Homo sapiens: one gene and its partners. The protein of the gene in region 1 purifies or fractionates together with the protein of each later gene. This does not show direct contact. Each region holds a gene or a part of one and is shown in the gene's direction. Other genes may lie near its edges.

What was found. Proteins that work in one complex are often made in the same cells at the same time.
Region 2: the proteins of PRTN3 (region 1) and ITGA2 purify together in Homo sapiens (affinity purification with mass spectrometry; one large-scale study listed by BioGRID and IntAct). This does not show direct contact.
Region 3: the proteins of PRTN3 (region 1) and FBXO21 purify together in Homo sapiens (co-immunoprecipitation; 2 studies listed by BioGRID and IntAct, with this or other methods). This does not show direct contact.
Region 4: the proteins of PRTN3 (region 1) and PUM1 purify together in Homo sapiens (affinity purification with mass spectrometry; one large-scale study listed by BioGRID and IntAct). This does not show direct contact.

Annotation. Positions count from the first base shown.
Region 1 is NC_000019.10:843,944-846,471, forward strand, and holds part of PRTN3 (myeloblastin precursor), read left to right. Parts: coding exon 1-91; intron 92-2,203; coding exon 2,204-2,434; intron 2,435-2,528. UniProt on the Homo sapiens protein: Serine protease that degrades elastin, fibronectin, laminin, vitronectin, and collagen types I, III, and IV (in vitro).
Region 2 is NC_000005.10:53,055,195-53,058,884, forward strand, and holds part of ITGA2 (integrin alpha-2 precursor), read left to right. Parts: intron 1-343; coding exon 344-494; intron 495-789; coding exon 790-955; intron 956-2,830; coding exon 2,831-2,907; intron 2,908-3,690. UniProt on the Homo sapiens protein: Integrin alpha-2/beta-1 is a receptor for laminin, collagen, collagen C-propeptides, fibronectin and E-cadherin. It recognizes the proline-hydroxylated sequence G-F-P-G-E-R in collagen.
Region 3 is NC_000012.12:117,176,938-117,180,627, reverse strand, and holds part of FBXO21 (F-box only protein 21), read left to right. Parts: intron 1-2,986; coding exon 2,987-3,108; intron 3,109-3,690. UniProt on the Homo sapiens protein: Substrate-recognition component of the SCF (SKP1-CUL1-F-box protein)-type E3 ubiquitin ligase complex.
Region 4 is NC_000001.11:30,950,685-30,954,374, reverse strand, and holds part of PUM1 (pumilio homolog 1), read left to right. Parts: intron 1-393; coding exon 394-661; intron 662-2,011; coding exon 2,012-2,141; intron 2,142-3,690. UniProt on the Homo sapiens protein: Sequence-specific RNA-binding protein that acts as a post-transcriptional repressor by binding the 3'-UTR of mRNA targets.

The DNA of each region.
Region 1 (2,528 bases):
GGAGCCCACCCAGCAGCACTTCTCGGTGGCTCAGGTGTTTCTGAACAACTACGACGCGGAGAACAAACTGAACGACGTTCTCCTCATCCAGGTGGGCGGGCAGGGCCGCGAGGGCTCGGAGGGGCACGGCCAGAGGGCTCCGGGACCCCCATTCCTGCAGCCAGCATTCATTGAGCACCCACTGTATACCGGGCCACGACCGAGGCCGCTGCAGCCTGGGTCCAGTGGCACTGGCCGGGGGAGACCGCTCCTTGGACACCAGGCCACTCCTCCTCCCCGCCTCTCCCCCGCCCGCGCCTCTCCCCCGCCCGCGCCTCTCCCCTGCGCGCCTCTCCCCCGCCCGCGCCTCTCCCCCGCCCGCGCCTCTCCCCCGCCCGCGCCTCTCCCTTGCCCGCCCCTCTCCCCTGCCCGCGCCTCTCCCCTGCATGCCTCTCCCTTGCCCGCCCCTCTCCCCTGCCCGCGCCTCTCCCCTGCGCGCCTCTCCCCTGCCCGCGCCTCTCCCCCGGCCGCTCCTCTCCCCCGCCCGCGCCTCTCCCCCGCCCGCGCCTCTCCCCTGCGCGCCTCTCCCCTGCCTGCCCCTCTCCCCTGCCTGCGCCTCCGCCCGGTGTGCTGTTCCCCCAGAAAGCCAGGTGCCCTCGCCTCCTCCGGCGCCTCCCCTGACCTCACTGGAAGTGGCGAGGACAGCCACAGCCCTCCCCGATTCACTGTTCTCCACTGAACCGCGTGCTCCTCTCATTCATGGGGCCCTCCTAGCCTCCTCCCACCCAGAAAGATCAGCTCCCCAGGGCAGAGGATTTTTGTCTGTGTTGTTCGTTATTGGACTCATGTGGCTTAGAACGGGACTGGGCATACAGGTGGTGCTCAGTAAGTGCTTGGGGCTGGGCACTGTGGCTCACGCCTGTACTCCCAGTACTTTGGGAGGCTGGGATGGGAGGATCACTTGAGGCCAGGAGTTTGGGAGCAGCCTGACCAACCTAGTGAGACCCCATCTCTATAAAAGACATTTTTTTTTTTTTTTTTTTTAGACAGAGTCTCACTCAGTCATCCAGGCTGGAGTGCAGTGGTGCAATCTCGGCTCACTGCCACCTCTGCCTTCCAGGTTCAAGTAATTCTCCTGCCTCAGCCTCCTGAGTAGCTGGGATTACAGGCATGCACCAACACGCTTGGCTAATTTTTGTATTTTTAGTAGAGACGGTGTTTTGCCACGTTGGCCAGGCTGGTCTCGAACTCCTGACCTCAAGTGATCTGCTCTCCTCAGCCTCCCAAAGTGCTGGGATTATAGGAGAGAGCCACCGCGTCCAGCCTACAAAAGAAAAATTTAAAAATCAACCGGGCATGGTAGCACACGCCAAGCCACTCATGAGCTGAGATGGGAGGATCACTTGAGCCCAGGAGGTTGAGGCTGCAGTGAGCTGTGATCATGCCACCACACTCCAGCCTCGGCGACAGAGCAAGACCCCATCTCAAAAAAAAAGTGCTTTGAAGATGAATGAATGGGCCAGGGGCGGTGGCTGTAATCCCAGCACTTTGGGAGGCCGAGGCGGGCGGATCGCCTGAGGTCAGGAGTTTGAGACCAGCCTGATCGATATGGCAAACCCCGTGTCTACTAAAAATACAAAAATTAGCTGGGCGTGACGGCAGGTGTCTGTAGTCCCAGCTACTTGGGAGGCTGAGGCAGCAGAATTGCTTGAACCCAGGAGGCAGAGGTTGCAGTGAGCCGAGATTGTGCCACTGCACTCTAGCCTGGGCAACAAGAGCGAAACTCCATCTCAAAAAAAAAAAAAAGAAAAGAAAGAAAGAAAGAAAACATGAATGAATGGCCGGGCACTATGGCTCACACTTGTAATCCCAGCACTTTCGGAGGCTGAGGAAGGCAGATCACTTGAGGTTGGGAGTTTGAGACCAGGCTGGCCACCTCACCCAATGGGATGGCTCCGGGAGGTTCCAGTGAGCCGAGATCACGCCACTGCATTCCAGCCTGGGTGGCAGAGCAAGACTCCATCTCAAAAGAAAGAAAGAAGGAAAGAAAATGAATGAATACAATAGTGACAAATGGGACAAAGGGGGTCGTGGGGCCCAGGCGGAGGGAGCGGCATCCGCGGCGTTTTGAGGTGGTGGGTGTGGTGGGTGTGGTGGGAGGGCGGCCCGGGCGGCCACCGTGACCTGGAAGCAGCGTCTCACCGCCGCCTGCCTTCTGCCCCAGCTGAGCAGCCCAGCCAACCTCAGTGCCTCCGTCGCCACAGTCCAGCTGCCACAGCAGGACCAGCCAGTGCCCCACGGCACCCAGTGCCTGGCCATGGGCTGGGGCCGCGTGGGTGCCCACGACCCCCCAGCCCAGGTCCTGCAGGAGCTCAATGTCACCGTGGTCACCTTCTTCTGCCGGCCACATAACATTTGCACTTTCGTCCCTCGCCGCAAGGCCGGCATCTGCTTCGTAAGTAACCGTGCCCCCACCCCGGGCACCGGGCTGCCATGAGGGGAGGAGGGCGGCGGCCAGGGTTCCACGCCACCTCTTAGCTGTGTGGCTT
Region 2 (3,690 bases), on another chromosome or scaffold:
AAATTTATAACAGAAATATCTTTGCTTTATTAATTCATACTGATTAATTCAACTTTCTTAGAAGAAAAGAATTCTAAGGAATACTGGGATAAATACATGCACACATATACACACATATGCCCTGACACACAAGACATTGTTTTTAATGTCAAGCAAGACTTCCATTTGTATATGTTTCTCTACAAGCTACAAATGGAACATTAAATATGTCCTCAGAATTAATATGGAGTTACAATAGATTGTGTTTAAAGAAGCTAGTTTCATGTTTCTATTTTAAACCAGAGGTTCTCATATTAACTTCATATTTTGATAGCAAGTCTTTATTTAATTTTATCTGCCACAGAAAATATGCTTATTCAGCAGCTTCTGGTGGGCGACGAAGTGCTACGAAAGTAATGGTAGTTGTAACTGACGGTGAATCACATGATGGTTCAATGTTGAAAGCTGTGATTGATCAATGCAACCATGACAATATACTGAGGTTTGGCATAGCAGTAAGTGGCTTTTCTTTTCACTTGTCTTGCCGCTATTGGGTAAATCTTTCTTTATAGCATCACTTCTCAAGGCTGCACTTTCCCATTGGCTGTTCATAGTTGAATATAAAAGAAAGTTCTTACTCTATCTCTGCTTCTTGATGATTTTCAATCCTGTCTACTAAATAAAGGGTTATGGAAATGTTGCTTGATTTACTTTTCCAGAGGGAATATTGTGTTCAAAATAGGCTAGAATGTACTCATAGGGAAAATGTACAGCAGTAATGACTGCACATTCTCTTCCTCTATTTTCAAGGTTCTTGGGTACTTAAACAGAAACGCCCTTGATACTAAAAATTTAATAAAAGAAATAAAAGCAATCGCTAGTATTCCAACAGAAAGATACTTTTTCAATGTGTCTGATGAAGCAGCTCTACTAGAAAAGGCTGGGACATTAGGAGAACAAATTTTCAGCATTGAAGGTAAAAAAAATAACCTCCTTTCAAGAATTTTCTTCAAAATGTTTAAATAATTGTTTATTATCACATATTTGCTTTACTAATGTTAACTTGTATACCATGTATAAAAAGAGCTACTACAATCAGTAAGAGAAATGGATGAAAAACATGAATAAATAGTTTATAAATGATAAAATACAAATGACTGATAAACATAAGAAAATATTCCCAATTTACAAAGTATATTTCTAAATACTTTCAGTAAGTATTTAAAAACATAAATTAAACCGACAATATGTTTTGCCTAAAAGATGACACAGAATAATAATGTTTAATCCTGGAGAGATTATCAGGAAGCAAAGAAGCTCATACACTGTTGATAGGATGATAAATTGTTATGACTTTTGGGGGACAATGTATGAATATCTATCTATTAGAATCATAAATAGTTTTACCTTTTTACACTGTGTTATGTAAGTTCTAAAATTCTTGAATTTGTTTACAGTAAGCATATATATTTTTAAAATTAGAAAAATACAGCAAAGATTTTTAATAGTTCAGTTTTTGAGGAAGCATTTTATTTATAGGACCTAAAATAATTTACTTAGGTGGCCTTGGAAAATCTAGTTAGTGCAGAAAGATCACGTGTTCAGGAGCTCACTGTGTGGGGGACTAGCACACACTTCACAGTTGGTTAAAAGAAAAAAAAAACACACATCACCCAAATCCTAGTTCTTGATGGTTAACCCGAATAACTCTTTGCAATAAAGACCATATGTTATTGGAAACCTATGTATCAGGTACAGCCTTAGAGTCTGGGGCTAAAGGAATTGCATAAATTATTCATTCATATACTCAAATCTTGATTTGATTATCCATTGGAATTACCCAAAAAGCATTATTGCTTCTTCAGTATCCCATGGTGCTTCAAAGTTGTTTAAATAACCATTTAAATCCAGCATACCCTGAGATAACACAAAATCACTAGGCTATCCACACTGATAATTGTATTTGTTTGTAGTGGAATGAATGAGAACAATTGCAATCTACAAGCTAGCTAGAAATGATTTTGAGCATTATTTGCTATTATGGACTTTGGGGAACATTATTCTATTTTATTAAAAAGTATCTCTACTCATCCTGTGTAAATTATTTTATCTTCTAAATAAGACTATGTTGTACAGTACAGTTTGTCTTCTTTTCTATATTAAAGTGTGAGTCCAGTAATTTAGCTTCCTTTTGTGAAGATTAGTGAAACGTAGCCATTTTGATCACACTGTATGGAAAATAAGTACCAATTGCATCTTACAGTGTTAGTGACACAGGCAAGCACATATACAGAACCAGAACAAACTTCCCAATTGGTAAAATTCCTACTCAGTCTTGAATTCTGATTCCTAATAGCTAACTCAGTTATCTCCCAGCAGTCTTCACTACAGATCAATTGCCCAGCCCTTCCAACTGCATCTGAGATATGTGTACATTATCAGTACCCATATTTCAAAGCTAAAAATTCAGTTAGTTTCTTAGCTAGTAATGATCAAGTTTTTAAAAAATTATCATCTCAGTTTTCACCTTACCTTATACCCTTTGTTGAGTGTCCTTTGGTATCAAGAACGTCATACATATTCTGCTAAATACATTAATGTTCAATTAAAGTTAATGCCAACTTTGAACACTACCTTGGAAGTGTTGTTATTTCCATAACCTGCTAGAACACTTTCTTAGTAATTTCTTCTTCCCAGAATATGCAAGCTCTGTATTTTTGGGTGAGTATTGGAACAGTGTGTGTTTGTGTTTGTGTTTGTAGGCATGTGTGTACATACGTGCCTGCTTGTGTTTGAAAACTTGATTTAAAATTACTGACAGTAATACAATTTTTAAAATTGAATGTTCCAGGTACTGTTCAAGGAGGAGACAACTTTCAGATGGAAATGTCACAAGTGGGATTCAGTGCAGATTACTCTTCTCAAAATGTGCGTATATCAGATAGCTTCAAGCCATGTTGTCATTTGGCATAACACTTCCAGACACAGTAGCCTTATACATAAAATGGGAAGACAGCCATCTAGGGATCAGCCCTTCTGATTCCTAGTCACGGTCATTTAGTTTCTTTGTGCTGCTGATTTACCTCTAAAATTTGAAGGATAATAATGTCTTCCCTTCCCTGTTTCACAGGGATCTTATATGGGGGAAAACTGATAGTATACCAGAAAGTCTTTGAGTACCCCAGGGCACAGACTGTATATTAACTTAAGGTATTATTCCTGCAGGAATTTTCTTTGAATCAATTAACTACTGGAAATGTTTGTTAAAAACACGTACTCTTGTCATCACCGTCATGGTCGAATTCTGAATGGTCATAGTATCTTTTTCTAAGAGCAGACAGAAAAGAGTTGAAAAAATAAGGAGGTAGGAAAAACGTGAGGTGGAATTGGAATACAACACTGTCTTTTCAGCTCGGGGAAGTCTATTTCTATCTCTCAGAAACATCCACCTCCTGGGCCCCTGATTCTAATTTGAGTCAGGAGGTGAGAGAGATAGTGAAAGGAGGCGAAAAAAAAAAGAAAGAGATCCTGGGAATTATTTAAGGAACAGTAGGAAATCCCAGGATTTGATCGGCAGGTCAGAGGACCAAGAACAGCTTGTTTTCTATCTAGAATCAAAGGAACTGACTTTTTCTGGATCATCAATCCTTAGAGATGCTCATAGAAGTTATGGATCTTTCCCTCAGAAAAAATGTAAATGAATCTATGCAC
Region 3 (3,690 bases), on another chromosome or scaffold:
GATGAAAACATTAGTCTTGTTATTCTGAGGGCTGGTGTGTGTGTATGAGAGAGAGATGTGGAATGAAGTAAATGAATAACGATGTGATATTCTAATTTTACCACCTGTGATATCCTGGAGAAGCAGAATTCTCCTGGAATAAAGAAGACATAGATATAAGATAGAAGAAGGTCAGAGACATATATTTTTGAATTAGAAGTGCCAGTGTGAACTCAAAAGGTATTTTATATTTAAATACATGTAGGTATATGTAAGTGCATGTGCATATGTACATGTACACACACGTGCACATCAACACTAGGCTTCCTACGTCTGTTTGCTGAAAAGATCTAGAAATAATAACCAACCTAGTGGAATTGATCTTCCCTGGTTTCCAGATTGTCATCTTGATACAACATTTTCCACAAAAGAAGCCAGGGTTTTTGGAGAAAGACTGATTGTATGTCCAATGCAAGGATTTTAAAAGATGAGCCTGGTGGTGCATCCTGGAAACCTAACCAGATAGTAAGAAAACTGACACTACTTTATGTCGGAAGTATTGAGGAACCAATATGAAGAGGCTTCCAGTGGCCAAAGATGTGACAGTTAGAGCATCAGTGTGGATAATAACAGGAATGGATTGAAATGCATCGAATATGCTTGTCTCTCTGAGTCCATAATACTAAAAAATTAATTGGTCACCTTTGAAGGATAAATAGAAGCCCATATCATTGTTTTGAAAAATTGTAAATAGAAGATATGAGCATTTATCCTGCCTTTTCCATGTACTGTATCATGGGGGATCAAATAATAGACGGGGAGGTTTTTCCTTATAGAAGTATCCCAGCTAATGAATTAAGAAGGGTTGATTGAATTTTAATATCACCACTTCGTAACCTCAAATGAATGAACAGATCAAGACATTGAGTAGCAGTGCTGCTGACATCACAAAAGAAACACCCAGGCATTATTGCCTCCTGATGGGAGAATGCACTACCTTCTATGAAATTATCTTGCTAAATTAATGGAATCTGTATCTCATGTAGCCTCTACATCCAATTTACAGGAGATCAGAAGACAGAAGAACATGTTAAACTACATCATGTGGGTACAGTCAGCAAATTTCAGACGATGGGAAACTGCAGGTCAAACAACCCAGGTTCTTCAACAAATAAAATGCAAGGGAAAAAAAAAAGATGGAGGAGGATCCTGTAGATTAAGAGATTTAGAAGGCATCAAAACAGACTCGCCTGTTTAGGGATGTATATTTCATGGTAATACTAAAGAGAAAAGCAAGAAAGTGATGACCATAGAGGTGTGGTTTGTGATTATTGTTGCGGGGGGCCCCGGAGGGCTTCTTGGCCGTTTGCAAAGTTTTCTTTCTTGGCAAGAGTGTTAGATCCAGGAATGTGCCTTGTAATGATTCATTAAGCTACTTGTTTGTTTCACACAATTTTCTAGATTGATATATTTTACAACTCAAAGGTTAAAAAGTAGATGAAACATAGATCATTCTGCAGATTTTCATTGACCTCTCTCAAGATTGGCAAGTTGTTTGTTTCTTCATGATGTCAGCCAGATAAGTTTCATCACTGTCTCTCTCCTGCTTCTTATAATCCCCATATGTATTTGGGATATGTGGTGAAGAATTTTATCCACTCAACAAGTGTTATGGAACATCTACTATGTGCCAGATGCTATTCTAGGCACTAGGGATACAGCAGTGAACAACACAAAAAAAATCCCTGCCTTCATGGGGCTTATACTGTAGTGGGCGAGATGGGCACTAAGAAATTGGTTACATTAGAAAATGAAACATGCTATAGAGAAATATAATCGGGGAAGAAGGCAGGGGAGTGGTGAGGGGGTACCATTTAAAATAATGTAGGGGGCCTTACTCAAGGGGACATTTGAGTTGAAACCTAGGAGAAGGTGAGAACAGACTGCAGTCTCTGGAGAGAATGTTCCAGGCAGAAGAACAGGGCACTAAGGTGAGCACCCGCCAGACAGTAAAGGAACAGCTGGAATGCTTGGGTGGCTGGACTGAGGGGGAGTGGCAGGAATTGGGGTCAGAGAGGTAATGGGGCGAGAGTTCAAGAGACCTTTTAAGTCCTCCTTAGGACTTGGGCTTTTTCTTGGAGCGAGGTGGGAAACCGCTGGAGACTTGGAGGCGAGGATTGGGTGGCGTGACCGTACGTGTTACTGCAGTGCTCTGGCTGCCGTATTGAGGATGGACTGTGGAGGGGCCAGGTCTGAAGCGGGAAGCTGAGGTAGGAGGATGTTGCTGCAACACAGGAATGCTGATGGTGGTGTGTGGGAGTAATTGGGAAGTGTGCACATTTTGGATGTAATTTGAAGATAGTACCGATAGCATTGGCTGACAGGTCTTAAGTATGGCTTATGAGAGAAAGCAAGGCATCCAGGATGACTCGCAGGTTTTATGCCTCACTAGAATGATGGAGATGCCTTGATCAGAGATGAGGGTGACTCTGGGAGGGGAAGAAAGATGAAAGTGCTCAGCTATCTGAGTGGGATGTGGAGTAGATGGATAGTAGTTGATACAAAGGTCTAGAGTTCAAGAGAGAACTCTGGTCTGGAAAATAGGAGTTTTCATAATATGTGAAACCGTGAGGAACTCACCATGGCAGTGAGTGCCCAGGCCCAAGTGGCCCAAGCAGGGGGACCAGCAAAAGGTTCTAGATGCCTCCCCATCTTCTGAACCTCCCCCAGCTCAATTCCTTTTTCAGGCTGCTCTTCCATTTCCTTTTATGAAAGATACAGGCAAGTAAGTCTGAAGCCAGGCAGATAACTGTTCCTCAGATTTCAGTACAACTAATTTAGTATTATATTACAATTCAAAGACTGCTATTTCCATTATAATTATTATAAGAGAATGAACCAATTATATTTTTCTTGTTAAGCAAACTACATGGTATGTTAGTGTAATGTGAAAAATAGATAACTGAAAGTTTTCAAATCTTAATTCTTACTGACTTTTTGTTTCCAGAAAAGCTTTGACCTGGAAATACTACGCAAAAAAAATTCTTTACTACCTGCGGCAACAGAAGATCTTAAATAATCTTAAGGCCTTTCTTCAGCAGCCAGATGACTATGAGTCGTATCTTGAAGGTGGGTCTTTTCCCATATATGTGGACAGTAGTATTTCTGTAGGTAACTGATTAGTTTTTTAAGACCAGCAGAGGGAATTGTGTTCCTTGTGGTAAAGAAGTGAAAAAGCAAATCATGTTGCGTGGGCTTCTGCAGGTTGGATTATAGGGCCTGATCAATGAGGTAGTTCAAACTATTAAATTTAGAGCTAAGATTTTATCAAAGTCCACTAAAGAAATAGTGTTTTTTAAAGATGCATCATTGGCTTAAAATGTGAGAGTGATACTTTAGCTAATGAAGTAAATTCCTGTTTTTCCGAGCTTTAATGATCATTTCCAAATCAGAAGTAAATGTATCCAATTTTGTCTCCCTGTGACCTTGAGTAAATCCCTTAACCTCTCAGGTTGGAGTTTATTGAGGACAGAATGTTCTTGGGCATCAGTGAGTCTGCTTGTCCGTAATGAAAGGTGAGAAGGAAGAAGTTGAGTGGACAGGCAAGATGAAGGGAGTGGAGAATCTTTTTGTTCTTATTAAGTTGAACAGGAACAAAGTGAGACTTCCATTTTTTTTAAAATGATTTTGAATTCCTACAATATTACACAA
Region 4 (3,690 bases), on another chromosome or scaffold:
GCAGATCTCAGAATGGAAAACCACTCCAGTCTGAGTTTGTTTTGCATTTTCTGAGTTTTTATTGCTGGTGCTCAGGTGCTAGGTTCACCTGGTCGGCACATTTCTTCCTCATTTCATTTACTAGGGGCCATGCTAACTGTTGCTCCAGCCTTACTAGCAGTCTACCATCAACGGTAAAAGCATTCCCTTCTCAATCTTTGTGCAAAAGTTTCCTTCCAGGTTGTTGAGTTGACCCACGAAAGTCATGACGCTAATAGAATTGTCTTGACACAAAAACAACAGCATTGAAGAAATCAGAAATGGTGCAGGCTTTCGGGTGTGGGAATGCTTTTTTCTCTCTTGAATGAAGTTGCTGAAGAGTGGTCTTAAGTTATCCTGTTCTGTAACCAACAGGAGGACTCACGAATGGCAGTGGAAGATACATCTCTGCTGCTCCAGGCGCTGAAGCCAAGTACCGCAGTGCAAGCAGCGCCTCCAGCCTCTTCAGCCCGAGCAGCACTCTTTTCTCTTCCTCTCGTTTGCGATATGGAATGTCTGATGTCATGCCTTCTGGCAGGAGCAGGCTTTTGGAAGATTTTCGAAACAACCGGTACCCCAATTTACAACTGCGGGAGATTGCTGGACATATAATGGAATTTTCCCAAGACCAGCATGGGTCCAGGTGAGTACTTGGCTTTGGCACTTTAAGGTACCCGAAATTGTAATGCCTTAACTGTCTTGGCTCAGATGGGTATCTACTTAAATAAATTGCCATATAGTAATTTTTTAAAAGCGTGCCTCTTAGTTTGCATCACATTATTTCATAGGGATTTAAGAAACAAACATGAACACAAAGACATACATACACTTCGGCTGCTTTAAGCATTATGAAGAATCTTTTGCTCTCAAAGAGTTGCTATTCAAATACAAGTTTGATCTAGGGTGCTGAGGAGTAAGACAGCTCTACCACCTTTCTTTGTTGTTCCACTCTGTAGAAGTGACAGTCTATGTAGAGACGAGAGAAGAAACTATTATAGAAGACAGAATTTGGTTTGGTTTACCCCTTCCTGTTGGGCTGCTGCAGTGGGCTTCACAGAAAGCGAATCTGGTCCTGGGGATAGAGCATAATTATGGTGACAACACCCATCCTTCTTTCCCATTTCTGTTTCTGTTTCTTTCTCTGATACTGTGTCCAGTGAAACAGTTTCTACAGAAGCTACCTCCTCCTTAAGTTCTGCCAGCTTGCTACTGGGCCAAAATTTCTCATATTTGAATTCTATAGGCTAGATTCAGAGGCAACATGATTTTCCTGATAGTGGTCATTTGGACTAAAAAAAGGCAGACTGTTACTACTTCAGAAGATAATGAATACTGTTTTGTTTTTGTTTTTTTGTTTTGTTTTGTTTTGTTTTGTTTTTTTGAGACAGAGTCTTGCTCTGTCGCCCAGGCTGGAGTGCAGTGGCGCAATCTTGGCTCATTGCAAGCTCTGCCTCCCGGGTTCACGCCATTCTCCTGCTTCAGCCTCCCGAGTAGCTGATGAGTACTGTTTTATATGAAAATAAGTTAAAGAATATAGTAAGGACTGTAAGCTTTGAGTTCATTGATGTGAGGCTGGTTTCTAAAGGAAAAAAGTCAAGTAGGGTACATGTTGTGTTATGTCTCCCTCCACCCCTCCTCTCTTCCTGCACCCCTGCCCCTCCCGCCCCCCCCCCGCCCCCCCCGCTTTCATCTTCCCTCCCACCTTGCACATAAATAAGATTCAGTATGCATGCCCTACTGGAATGAAATGTGCCAACATTTATATGTAATTTTCAAAGCTCAATTAAGTTAGGACCTTCTTCCTCTATTTAAAAACTCTTCAAGGGAGTTCAAGTGATTCATTCAAATAAAGTTTGGTTTATTGTGTGCATGTGTGTGCACACATGCTCACTCACATGTTTCAGAACGGATGCAGTCTATAAACCGAGGTACACTGATGTATCTCCAGGTCTTCCTTCAGTGCTGTGATTGCCCTTTTTACTTTGTACTTCAGATTCATTCAGCTGAAACTGGAGCGTGCCACACCAGCTGAGCGCCAGCTTGTCTTCAATGAAATCCTCCAGGCTGCCTACCAACTCATGGTGGATGTGTTTGGTAATTACGTCATTCAGAAGTTCTTTGAAGTAAGCCTTTGTTCTTTCTATCCTTTGACTTAAGAGAATCTGCAGAGCATTTTGATTTTCATTAGCCTTTTTAAGCATAGCAGTCCCATTCCAGTCCTCAGAATGAAGGGTGTGTGGTCTTTTTGAAGAGGTTTTTAGTGTTTTTCCAATTCATTAGCAGCAGTCTATCTATTCTGTATGGTTTAAATATCCGAGCAGATAATGCCAATCTATTTTGGAAATGTGTTTCGAAAACTGGTGTCCCCATTTAGGACCCAGCACATTATTTCAGATTGTTATAATAGTTTCACAAAACGTGTCACTTAAGGAGGAAATAATCCTTGTAAAGTAGTTTTAGCAGGATCACAATAAAATATTGCCAAAAACAAATTTTTCTAAGGTTCTTAGAGAATTGTCTTTGGACACCGACTCCAGTATGTTTCATTATCAGCTAGGGTCACAAGAATTGTTAAATGCTGCTTCTTGGCTGATCGTTTGGCCTTGATTTCTTGTTTTACTTCTGTTAATTTGAATAATGTTCACTTGTTGTATCATTGTCTTTGGAAAGAATGAGATTGTTAGGTTGATGTCTTTTCCCTCTAGTGAGGTAAAATTTCAGAGAGGCAGGGACTTTTTTGCTTACCATTGTAGCCCTTATTATCTGGTATTGGCAACCCTAAGGTGTAGATGCAGAATGGCACAAAACTTCGAGATGAGGAGGAGTCTGGTATGGGGAGGAAAATGCTGGAATTCTGCACATTACCTACCACAAAACAAATTTGTAAATGTCTTAACATCTCATCCTGTTTGATTTGTATGAAGATGAAAAACTGACGTACTCAAGTTTTACCTTCCCAAGTTTTTTCATGAAGACTTATGTTTTTTCACCCTGAATTCTTCAGCTTTGGACTAAGAAACCAATCTAAACATGACTTTTGTATTTTTGATTTTAGAATGACTTTGCACTGCCGTTTTGTCACATATATAAAAATACTGAGCTTTCTAGTTCTGGAGGCTGATGCACCTTGGGGTGACAAAATGTACAATGGATTATAGCCATATGATTTGGACCAAGCTTGAGAACTTCTCTGGATCTTAGTTTCCCTTGGGAGAATGAGGAGGTTGGATGGGCTGAGAATTCATAAAGTCTCCTCCAATCTCACGATTATGTGATTGAAATGAAAATAATAAGCCAAGGATGGAAAATCATTCTAAGTAGAATTTTAACATTGTGTAGCCTCACTTCTTGATTCTACTGATTTTTCCCCTCCCAACTCTGTTACCTTGTGTAAATAGGAGAAAAAAAAATCAATTCTCTTAATGATGTAGAATACTATTTCAAAACAGTGTGTCCATGTGTGCTTTGGCAGTAAGAGTGTAGGATTCTTTTTTTTGACACACAGTCTTGCTCCATTGGGCAGGCTGGAGTGTAGTGGTGCTATCTCAGCTCACTGTAACCTCTGCCGCCTGGGTTCAAGCGATTCTCCTGCCTCAGCCTCCGGAGTAGCTGGAGTTAACAGGAGCGTGCCACCATGCCCAGCCAATTTTTGTGTTTTTAGTAGAGGCAGGA